Regions from separate parts of the Homo sapiens genome. Here region 1 is linked to region 2. Evidence: fine-mapped expression QTL. A gene starts in region 2. The other region holds a variant in brackets. All regions are shown on one strand. Distances are from middle to middle.

Region 1 (5,383 bases), 800 kb after region 2:
CCCACTTCAGCCTCCCAAGTAGCTGGGTCTACAGGCACATGCCACCACGCTCATTTAACTTTTTTATTTTTTGTAGAGACAGGGTCTTACCATGTTGCCTAAGATGGTCTCAAACTCCTGAGCTCAAGCCATCTGCCTGCCTCAGCCTCCCAAAGTTATGAGATTACAGGCATGAGCCACTGTGCCTGGCCTCAGAATACCCTTATTAAATGACAAATAATTTACCAGGGAAAAGTTACATACTCGAATTCTGATACATGAAAACAAATTAGTTTCTCAAAACAACCTTGTTTCTCAGATCAGCTAGTAGGAATCCAAGAGAGAAGACATAAAACAGTGAAGTTTAGATTGGGGACTGAAGGGAAGGAAAGCAACAGAGATAGAGGCAAGGCATCAAACATGGAATTGTACAACTGAAACAGAACGTTGCTTAAGATGAACTTTGCCTTCTTTGCAGGGTAATGTAAGTCAGGACATTATGTAAATTAATGTATGTACTTTTATGAGAATCAGTTTTTAAAGATCACAGTATTCACACTTCCAAATAAACAGAGTGACTCACTACTGAATTTATGAAGAAACTTGGGTAGTGGTGAGTTGCTTTGTTTACTTGGGATAAATGTGAATGTACTAATAACCAGAGGTAAATCACAAGAAATTTTCCATATGGTATGGATATCACCATTATTAGGTGAATTAATCAAATAGTAATGTTTTTATTTTGTAGCATCTTATGATTTATAGAGTGCTGTCACATAGTTTATATCCTTTCCTCCCCTGGATAGCTGATTTATAAGCCATTAAATTAAGGAACATGGGGGAGGGGTGCAGGAAGGACCATCTGTGAAAGTATCTCCTTAACCAAAGTTGACTTTGCTGGTCTTGGATCCATAAACATATCTGCTCTCCCCTCTGTACATCTCTTCAAGTAGACCTATCAGATGTAAAATTCACACATTCTGTTAGATCACATAATAAAATAAGTCTTTAAATTTGCAACATAAAATTTTCAATGTACTACCAAAAAGTATCTTCGTGATGTATAAATACATTTCTCCAATGGATTCACTGAAGGATTCTGTGGTTAACCGAGATAACTAGATTTGGACATAAGAAAACCAGCAAAGGATTTGTGCACTCAGACACAGATGCAAAAGCTATAGGTAGAGTCATTTTATAAATCTGAGTTATGCTTAAAATGTGGACTTCAGTTTTCTAGTAAATTATGAACATCCTCAGTAAATTATGAATGTTATTGTAATGGTGTGTATAATATAGCCCCATCTGAAAATAATAATGTGCATATATCAATCAGGCACCTAATTTAAAAGAAGTAATGCTCTTCCCTTTCATTCCAGAATTATTTGGCAGTGGCAGTTTGGAAATCCTATCAGTCTTTCAAGACTATTGTCTAACTGAAGGATCCCCTAACCTAACAAAGTTTTAGAACAATTGGTCTAGATTTCAAAAAGCAAGACAGCCGGAACATGTGGAAATAATTCAAGACCTGGGTTCATTGTAGCTCGCATTTCCAAACAAAGTTCTTTTCAATTTCTAGGGAAAACATAAAAAAATGGAGCCTCAAAACTTTCCAAGAGCCCAGTGGAAGTGATAAAAATTCAAAGCAAAAAGTCCAAATGTTAGTATAAAAAGATTCTAGAAAGCACGGGGATACTTGTAAGAGTAGAGTTGGACTCTGTGTTCCCACCCATACTCTAACCAAAAAGAGTCCTAAAAAAAAAGAATAGCTTGACAAAGTTAAAAAGAAATTTGAGTTCTCTCCATTACAGCTGCTATGCAAACCAATAGACCTGCAGAGTAACTGTCTTAGCAATTCAGTAACTCCAAAGTTTAATATAGATGGTAGTTGCTTTCAACAACTGCAGATATAAATTGTGTGTGATGGTACACACCAATAGTCCCAGATACTCAGGAGGCTGAGGCGGGAAGATCACTTGAGCCCAGGAGTTTCGAGGCCAACCTGGGTACCTATCTCTTAAAAAAAAAAAAAAAAAAAAAAAAAAAAAAAAACCTGAAGAGAATAAATTATAAGATTCATATTCCAATTAAAATCTTGTACTGCTCTATGTTAATGATCCACATTCATGAAAGAAAGTGTTTGGGGCCAGGCATGGTGGCTCACGCCTGTAATCCCAGGACTTTGGGAGGTAAAGGTGGGTGGATCACTTGAGCCGAGGAGTTTGAGACCAGCCTGGACAACTTGGCAAGACCCCAGCTCTACAAAAACTATAAAAATTAACCAGGCATGGTGCTGCATGCCTATAGTTCCAGCTACTTGGGACGCTGAAATGGGAAGATCACTTGAGCCCAGAAGGCAGAGGTTACAGTGAGCGGAGATCACACCACTGCACTCCACCCCGGGCAACATAGCAGGACTCTGTATCAAAAAAAAAAAAAAAAAAA[AT/T]CTGTTTGAGACAAAGAAGTAGTCCATCATATTGGCTTTGGAGCTAAGCTCTACCTTTAAGAATCAAGGAAGCTTTAGTTGTAAAGCATATTTCATAGTGATTATAACCCAAAAATTTAAAGTAGAGGCATAAATGAAAGACGATTGTACTGTAATTAGATGATTTGGATCCAGTTTTGTTTCCTCTAAATGCCTGTGTGTCCTTCAACAAATCAGTTAATTTCACAACTGTCTATTTCTTTGAGTTTAAAATAAAAATGATTTTTTCTGCCTTTTGATGTAAACGTATGATGCATGTGAGAGCTTTTCAGAAGAGGCAAAGTGTTACTTAATTAGAAAAATTAAAAATCCTCATCATTATTACTTTTCGCCCCTACTACCCAGGAGACACTTAGTTTCTTTGCTCTATTTCCTGTCTCTGAATAATACATGCTTGACATGTGTCCTTCCTCTTTGGAATTTAAACTCTGAAACTCCTTTATACTCCTTAGATTGCTCTTGAATATTCTTCATAACAAGAATTTTTTTATTTCTTAACAATTTTTATAACAGTAAAAGAAAATTGCTCACCTAACCACTCTTTATCCACTGCTAAACAAACCACGGAGGACTTCCTTATCTCTAGGAGTTTCTTTCATTCACTTACTGCAGCTTCATAAAAGTTGTGAGAAAGGAAACTAAGAGTTAAGGGCATGTTTGAAAGCAACAGAATTAGAGAGAAAAAAACAAAGATAATACAAACCATCCTGTCAGGGAAGAAAGCAGTGCTCCCCTCTACCCCCTTCATCAAGAGAAAAAAGCAGAAGTCAAATAAAGGAATGGAAATGAAAGGGAAAGACAGAGAATACAAGAAGGATAAGCCTTGGTGTCAACATGGATGTGGAAGGCAAGCAATAGGGCAAATTCAAAGATAACCCTGGAGCAGTGTGATCCCTACACTAGCAGCATGCAAATTATGTTCCCCCACCCTTCACCCCCACCCCAGACATCCTAAATCAGAAACTCAGGCAATGGAGCCTAGAAATCTGTGTAACAAGCCCTGGTTCATGCTGAAGTTGAGAATCAATTCCCTAGAGAGGTGAGCCTGGGTAATTAGAAGAATGGCATCAGGTTGCTTTTGTTACATAACATTTTTTAAAATTCCACTAATAAGAATCTGTTTAGAAAAAGTAAATCAAAATTATGGATCAAAGCTTGATTTTGTAGTGGATAAATTATATCACAGAAACTAATCACTCACATATGAGGTAAGTTGAGTCTTCCAAATTACATAGGTCACATGGCAAATGTATCCCTTCTGGTATTTAGCAGGACTGACTTGTATTATTCATATCATCATGTATTATCTTTACACCTTCCCTTTAGAATGTAAACTCTGTGAGAGCGGAAACACACACACACAGAGACATACATTTCACACACGTATATATACATGTATATCACACTTTCACATGCCCATTCATTTGGTCAATGTGCACATTCACCGAAAACCACCTGATCTCCAAAAACTATTGAAATAAAATAAATAAAAGAAAATTTTAAAATGTGAACACGCTTTCCAGGAGAATTTAATTCAAGGGACTTATACACAGATACATTCTTTTCACAGCAAGAGTTTTAAATTTCTTTGTTTTTTCTCTTTTTTTATTTGCTATAGAATATATTGTACACATATCTGTGTTCACACTTTCGTGTTTTTTTTTTACCCACAAGAGATAAATATTTTGGCGTTTTCTGAATCATATTATCAACAGCCCGTTCACTGGTGACTGTTTTTAGCCCATTGGTATCCTCTGCACATACGGTAATTTTGCTTATTACTTTGAGAAGTTCAGCTATTTCAGCCATGAATTCAGTGTAAATAGACATAGTAACAATAGTAGCATAACAATGTTGGTGATTGGGCCATAATAGTCATATGAAGATAATGTGTTAATCCTCATATGGAGCTTGGACTATTAATTATATCAAGCCAGTGGGTGTAAAGTAACAAGTATAAGGCTTGGAGTGAGAAGGCCATGATATTACCACTTTCTGGCTGAGTCACTTTGGCTAAGTTCTGTAACTGACCTAAGCCTCAGTTTTTCAGATCTGTAGTACTTACTTTACATGATTGCTCTTTGAATTGAATAACATAATTTATGTGAAAACACTTAATTATGAATGCTGTAAAACTATCAAAGCCATTAATATGTGTTATAGTAGCATCATACATTTTGCAGCATAATCCAGAGAACAAGGAGTTGTTAACAAGGGAGAGGAAGATAATCTGGTTGGGCTAGTATTATACTCTCAGGTGCTACTGACTTCTTAGATGACCTTCAAGATGTTAGTACAACTCTCTACTTGGAGATGCTATTTTCTGGGGATGTTAATATCCACTCTATTCACAAAATTTTAAGAAAAGTCAAGTAGCATGGATGAAACTCTCCAAAGTTCTGCTTAAAACTAAAATATCTTAGTTGTCACTGAAGCCACAGATATTTTGTGAATGCAGCATGTTCCCAATAGGCAGTCCCTCTTAGCCTCACAGTCCAAGCTGGCAACAGGATCACATCCCAGGGAATGAACAGAAAGGCTGGCAGGCAATCACACCGCTGATATCTCAGGTGTGTGGGCCCCCCATTTTTTTTTTGAGATGGAGTCTCACTCTGTTGCCCAGGCTGGAGTGCAGTGGTGCCATCTCTGCTCACTTCAACCTCCACCTCCCGGGTTCAAGTGATTCTCCTGCCTCAGCCTCCTGAGTAGCTGGGATTACAGGCGCCCACCACCATGCCCAGCTAATTTTTTGTATTTTTAGTAGAGATGTGGTTTCACCATGTTGGTCAGGCCGGTCTCGGCCTCCTGACCTCAGGTGATCCACCTGCCTCAGCCTCCCAAGTTACAGGGATTACAGGCGTGAGCCACGGTGCCCAGCCGTGTGGGCCCCCTTTTAAACAGACGTCTCTTGACGGAGAC
Region 2 (5,383 bases):
GGATTTCTTAGAGGCAGAAAGATTCTAATTCCAGTTTCTAATATCACACGAACAGGACATAACTACTACCTTAAATAGGGGCAGTAATACCTAGGGCTTCACCTTATCATTATTATTTGAATTAGAATATCTTGCATTGCTTTCCTAGTGTGCCCTATCATAATCTTAACTCTCATGCCAATAGGTTGAATAATACCTTTAAAATTTTGTTGAAAACAACAAGTTTTAAGAATGACTTGGAAGGAGTGGTCATTGCTCCTTGGAGAAGTTATAGGAGTAACTGTGTGAACGCCAATGTTAAATTTTACTGATTTTTCTCATGCGCTGCTGATTGTTCTGTATGGAATACTTATTATTCTTACTAAATCACTTTTTTTCTTTTTCATTTTTTTCTTTTTTTGTGAGACAGGGTCTTGCTCTGTCACCAGGCTGGAGTACAGTGGTGCGATCTCGCCTCACTGCAAGCTCTGCCTCGAGTTCCAGCGATTTTTCCTGCCTCAGTCTCCCTAGTGGCTAGGATTACGGGTGTGCGCCACCACATCCGGCTAATTTTTGTATTTTTTAGTAGAGACGGGGTTTCACCAGGTTGGCCACGCTACTCTCAAATTCCTGACCTCAAGTGTTCCGCCTGTCTTGGCCTCCTAAAGTGTTGGGATTACAGGTGTGAGCAGCTGCACCCAGTCAATATCACTTTTTAGCTAAGATTTATATATAAGTTTAAAAGTGTTTTGGCTTCCAAACTCACTAGCAATTCCCAGACTTCAAAATTGACACCACACACAGTAATTTTCTGGATTCTCAAAGCCTCATACATATAATCCTCACAAGATAGCTTTAATAGTATTAATGAGGTCAAGGCCCTTACTTTTTTTTTTTTCACCAGGGCCAATTTATTTTGCTTAGTTTCTGTCAAAGACCTCTAACCAGGCATCTTATGTGAAAGCATGCTGTACGTTCCAAAGAAGCCTGGGTTAAAATCCAGATGACTTAAGTCTATTGGAAATTATACATCAAATCCATGTCCTAGAAACAATGTCATTTTCAAATCCCAAGTACAGTGTATTCTTTGCATGCATGGTATTTTTGATAAAGTCTCTTATTTTGTGACAAAATATTGCTATATCAGCTGCCTAAAAAAGTGCAACTTAGTTTGGCAGTAATTATTTTTTTTTCTTTGTATAGTGAAAAGCGATTTCCCCAACCCTCCCATCTTGGCCCTTGTAAGAAATCCTTTTTAGGAATCTATCCTGGGCTTCCTGCTGGACTTCAGCCTCATTTTTTTCTCCAATGCCTGAGTACTGGACCAATATTTGGTAAGAATTTGGCTCTGGGGAGTGCTATGTTGAATGACAAATGGTTGAGGACGAAGATTTTATTGAAGCATTTGAACCACACTTAATTTTCCGTGTTGCTTTATTTGTTCCTTTTACCACCCAGGATATTGAATTCTGTGGGCTCTGGTTGAGTCGTTGGTACTTCAGGCGTTCAGTAATAAGAAACATAATCTGCTTTTTCCGGCAGGATAATAAATCTCATTTATATTAAGGGAGGCTTACTCCAAACTCTTTTACATAGTATTTTTCTAAATCTTCTGCATGAACAAATTCTTCCTTGAGCCCTAGCACTGGGGACCCGGTCTGGCAACCTGCGCCCCATTCCGCGGGAATCAAGCGTGACCCGGTGCGGCCTTGCGCGCTGCCGCCAGCCAGACCCTCCCTCCGGCTTTCCCACCCACCGCCCGGGATCCAGCCTCCATCCCGCTGCCTCAGCTGTCCAAGACAGCGACACCCCCCTCTCCGCTCCCGCGGCTCCCCCGGCGCAGCTCGCCGCGCCAGACAGCGGGTAACCGCCGCCTCCGCTGGGGCATCCCGGCTCCACAGGCCCAGCGCGCTCCAGACACCTGCCTCTCACTGGCCACCGCCGCTGCCCCTCACCCCGCAGCCCTCTCGGCAATTGGCCCCAGGCCGCCGCTCGTCATCCTCAGCCTTCTCCTAGAGTACCGCCTCCGTCGCCGGGTCATTTAAGTTTATCACAAATAAATAAATAAAGGAGGAAATAGAAATGCGTAGAAAGTAAAAGCAGTAGGGGGTGGGGGAGATGGGGCGTGGAGGAAAAGGAGGGAGGAGCGGAGGAGTAAGCAACCTAACCTGATTGCGCCTGTGTCGACCAATCATGGCTCACTCCAGTCCGGTCTGACGGGCTCCCTGAACCAATAGCCTTCCACCTCCCGGATCACTGAACAACGAGATACGATTGACCTTTTCAGAAAGGGTGAAGGTGCGGCGGGGGGAGGGGGTTGTGGGGGTGGGCGAAGTGGAAGGATTGTCCACCAATCGCCTGTTAATACTTCTCTGAGCGAAGTTTCCGCGTCCCAATGGATGTTTGAGATAGCGGATTGGGCCTCTTTTAGCCCAATCGAAGGTGACAGAGATGAGGGAAGAGGAAGAAAGGGGCGGGGACGGGGGGGCGGAGGGGAGAAGGAAGAGTGCATTTTGTTTATGGGCGGCAACCTCACGAGGGGCGTCCCATTCTCATTGGCTCACTGAAGCCAAGATTGGCGTGAGAGCTATCCTATAGCGGGGAGAGATAGAGGGTTCGCGGAGTGAAGCGTCCAATGTGGGCCTTCTGCCGAAGAAGTAGGGGCGGGGGGAAGTTTAGGAGTTGAGGAAAGAAGATTAAAGAGCGCGAGGAGGTAATGCCACAAACTCTAATTTGTTGTGGGACGGGCGGGAGAGAGGGAGGAGTGTGTGCGTGCCGAGGGGGATGAGGCGTCTGCGAGGCGCCTGGAGTGGGGGGCGGCGGGACTGGGAAGGAGGGGAGCGGGGTGGGGTTGGGGGAGCGAGTTACAGAGCGGCGAGCCAGCGGGCCCTGAGCTGGATGAGCGCGCGCGCCCCCGCGCCCCGCCCCGCCCCGCCCCGCCCGCGCCCCCTCCCCCGGCGCCCTTCTTAGCGCCCGGCGGCTGCCTCGCCCGACCCGGCGGGGAGGTGGGAGGGAGGCGCGGGAGGGTCGAAGGGTGGCGGGGCGGGCGGGACGTCCCGCAGCTGGAAACGTGTCTTCTGCCTTCTTCTCTCTACTCCCTGCGCCTGGAGCCGCTGCTTCCAAGAAGAGGAGCTGAGGGGGACTAGCCGGGGCTCAGGAGCTGCTAGAGGCGCCCGCTTGTCTTCTGCCCCCTCCCTCCTCGCCCTCCCCCGCTTGCCGTGGCTCTCGCGGTCTCTGGAGCGTCTTCAGAGAACTGGGGGGCAGGAGGTGTCCTGGCCCCACAGCCGCTGGATGTCTCTCCAGACGCCGGAGCTCCCGGCCCCCGCCTGCTTCGCTTCTACGACTAGAGAGGAGGGGGCTTGGGAAGGGAAGACACACCTTTCCTTCTTTCTCTTCTTTGGGCCACTTCGGAAACATTAAAACATGTTAACACTTTTTGATTCCTGATATAAAAATGGTTGGAAGGTTCTTGAAAGTTTAAAACAAATGCCGTCTCTCGTACACTGTTTAATGTATTCCTGTCTGTGTGGCTTTTGGGTCCTCCCCCCACCCCCCGCCCCCAGCTGTTATCCTTTTTAAGGATGCTGAAGAGGCAGGAGGCAGGGATTTTCTAAAAGTTCTATTGATAAACACACTTGCACAAACATATGCTAGGCACACACACAAACTAAACATTAGCGAAAAACACAATATGGCGTACAGCTACGGTACCTAGCGCGGTAATCCGCTGATCTCTCACTCCGAACTGGGTTGAATGAGGTCAGTAGCAGGATGACAGCTCTCCAATGAAAATCTGAATGAATCAGGAAGTAGTTTGGAAGCTTGCGGGTGTAGTACTGTCCTCAGAATCAGCATTGGCCAAACCTAAGTTGAACATGTTACCTTTCTAGACATGTGAAAATCTTCTCCACTGTTTTTTCTATTAAAAATACCAAAAGGGTGCTAAAGTCAAGTTTCCTCACTGCGTGGCGGTGTATACATTTCAGCTAAAAAAATTATAGAGGCCATTCACCCAATGTTTTCAAGTGAACGCTATTCTGAAGTTACTGTTGTAACTTGTTGCCATTGAAAGTTTTAAAACACAATTACCATTTTATAAATAAATAGCTGTAGACACTAAATTTAAGTGATAACCAGTCATCTTTAAATTTATAATGGTTTGTTTTCATTTCTGTTCATGCTCCCAATCCCAAGTACCCTTTGCTATTTTGTGGAAATATTTATATAGATCCCCCTCCACTCCCGGTCACATACAGTCAGCCCTTCCTGTGCCTGGGTTCTGCATCTGTGGATTTAACCAGCTGCAGATCAAAAATATTTTGGGTGTGGGGGAATAGATGGAATAGAATATATATAGTTTTTTTCTTGCCACAATTCCCTAAACAATACAGTGTAACAACGATTTATTAATACATGGCATTTACTTGTATTAGGTGTTATAAGTAACCTAGAGATGATTTAAAGTATGTGGGAGAATGTGATTAGGTTAAATGCAAATACTACACTATTTTATGTAAGGGACTTGAGCATCTGTGGATTTTGGTTTCCTAGAGAGGTCCCAGAACCAATCTCCCATGGATACTGAGGGTCAACTGTAAGTTTGTCCAGTCAAGATGTGGCTACTTTTTGCTTTTTTGCTTTAAAATGAAGAATCTGTATTTTTCTAGTGAAAGAAAAAAAATTACATTGATTTTCATGCCTTTGTTCTTTGTGATTCTTAGAATATATCAAAGTTGTTGCACACATAGTGCATGGTGATATCCCTGTGCCATCTTTCCAGTAGTCTCCCAGGAAAGCTTTTGAAATTGCCCTTGAGGAATTGCTGATGTAACTGTTCAGTACTCAAGGCTTAATTTTCAAGATTGGGGTTTTGATTTTTATGGAGCTCAATTTTGGAGGGCCTTAGGTTTGGGGACACATGGTGTTGAAGTAAACAGGTGAGAAGAAGAAAAGTGAGATTTCTAGAACTATATTAGCTGCTCAGTGAGTTGGGCAATTGGATATTTTTGGTTTTATGATTTCAGATTTTATAGACCAGTGGAATACAGGCCTTGTGCATATGAAGATCAGGTGACAAGTTTGCTGCCTACCAGCCTCCACAGCAATATGCCCTTTCACGGTGAGGTCCTAATTTTAACAAGCTAAAGAAAGTATCAGGTTAAAAATTGTCAAATTTTATCCATTTCCAGGAAGAAGTCTTTATGCTTACCCATCTAGGCCCGTGTTTTAAGATTACTACAAAACCAAGAAAATGCACATATAGGTCATGTGTACATTGACTAGCTACTAAAAGAAAATACGAGATTAAATGGAATACTAGAGGAAAGAGAAACTTTCATGTGAGGGCTATAATTGGGGAAGGGGGTGTTTAGAACTACCAGTTGATGTGATGCCAGTTTCTTCT

What was found. PIP is the estimated chance that this variant, and not a neighbour inherited with it, causes the effect.
Region 1: its variant is the best candidate, but not a certain one, in a credible set for the expression of ZBTB20 in whole blood (INTERVAL, PIP 0.67).

What each region holds. Positions count from the first base shown.
Region 1 is chr3:114,343,726-114,349,108 of GRCh38, reverse strand. All of the region lies in intron 11 of ZBTB20 (zinc finger and BTB domain containing 20), which reads left to right. Among named protein-coding and RNA genes, the nearest start is that of ZBTB20-AS1, 5.4 kb to the left of the region's middle. The variant AT/T (reference allele first, on the strand shown) is at 2,425.
Region 2 is chr3:115,144,528-115,149,910 of GRCh38, reverse strand. It overlaps ZBTB20 (zinc finger and BTB domain containing 20), which reads left to right and starts at 2,623. Exons shown (of 12, transcript NM_001348800.3): 1 at 2,623-2,692. RefSeq lists silencers at 1,628-1,847, 2,408-2,577, 2,888-3,157 and enhancers at 1,898-2,107, 3,838-3,947.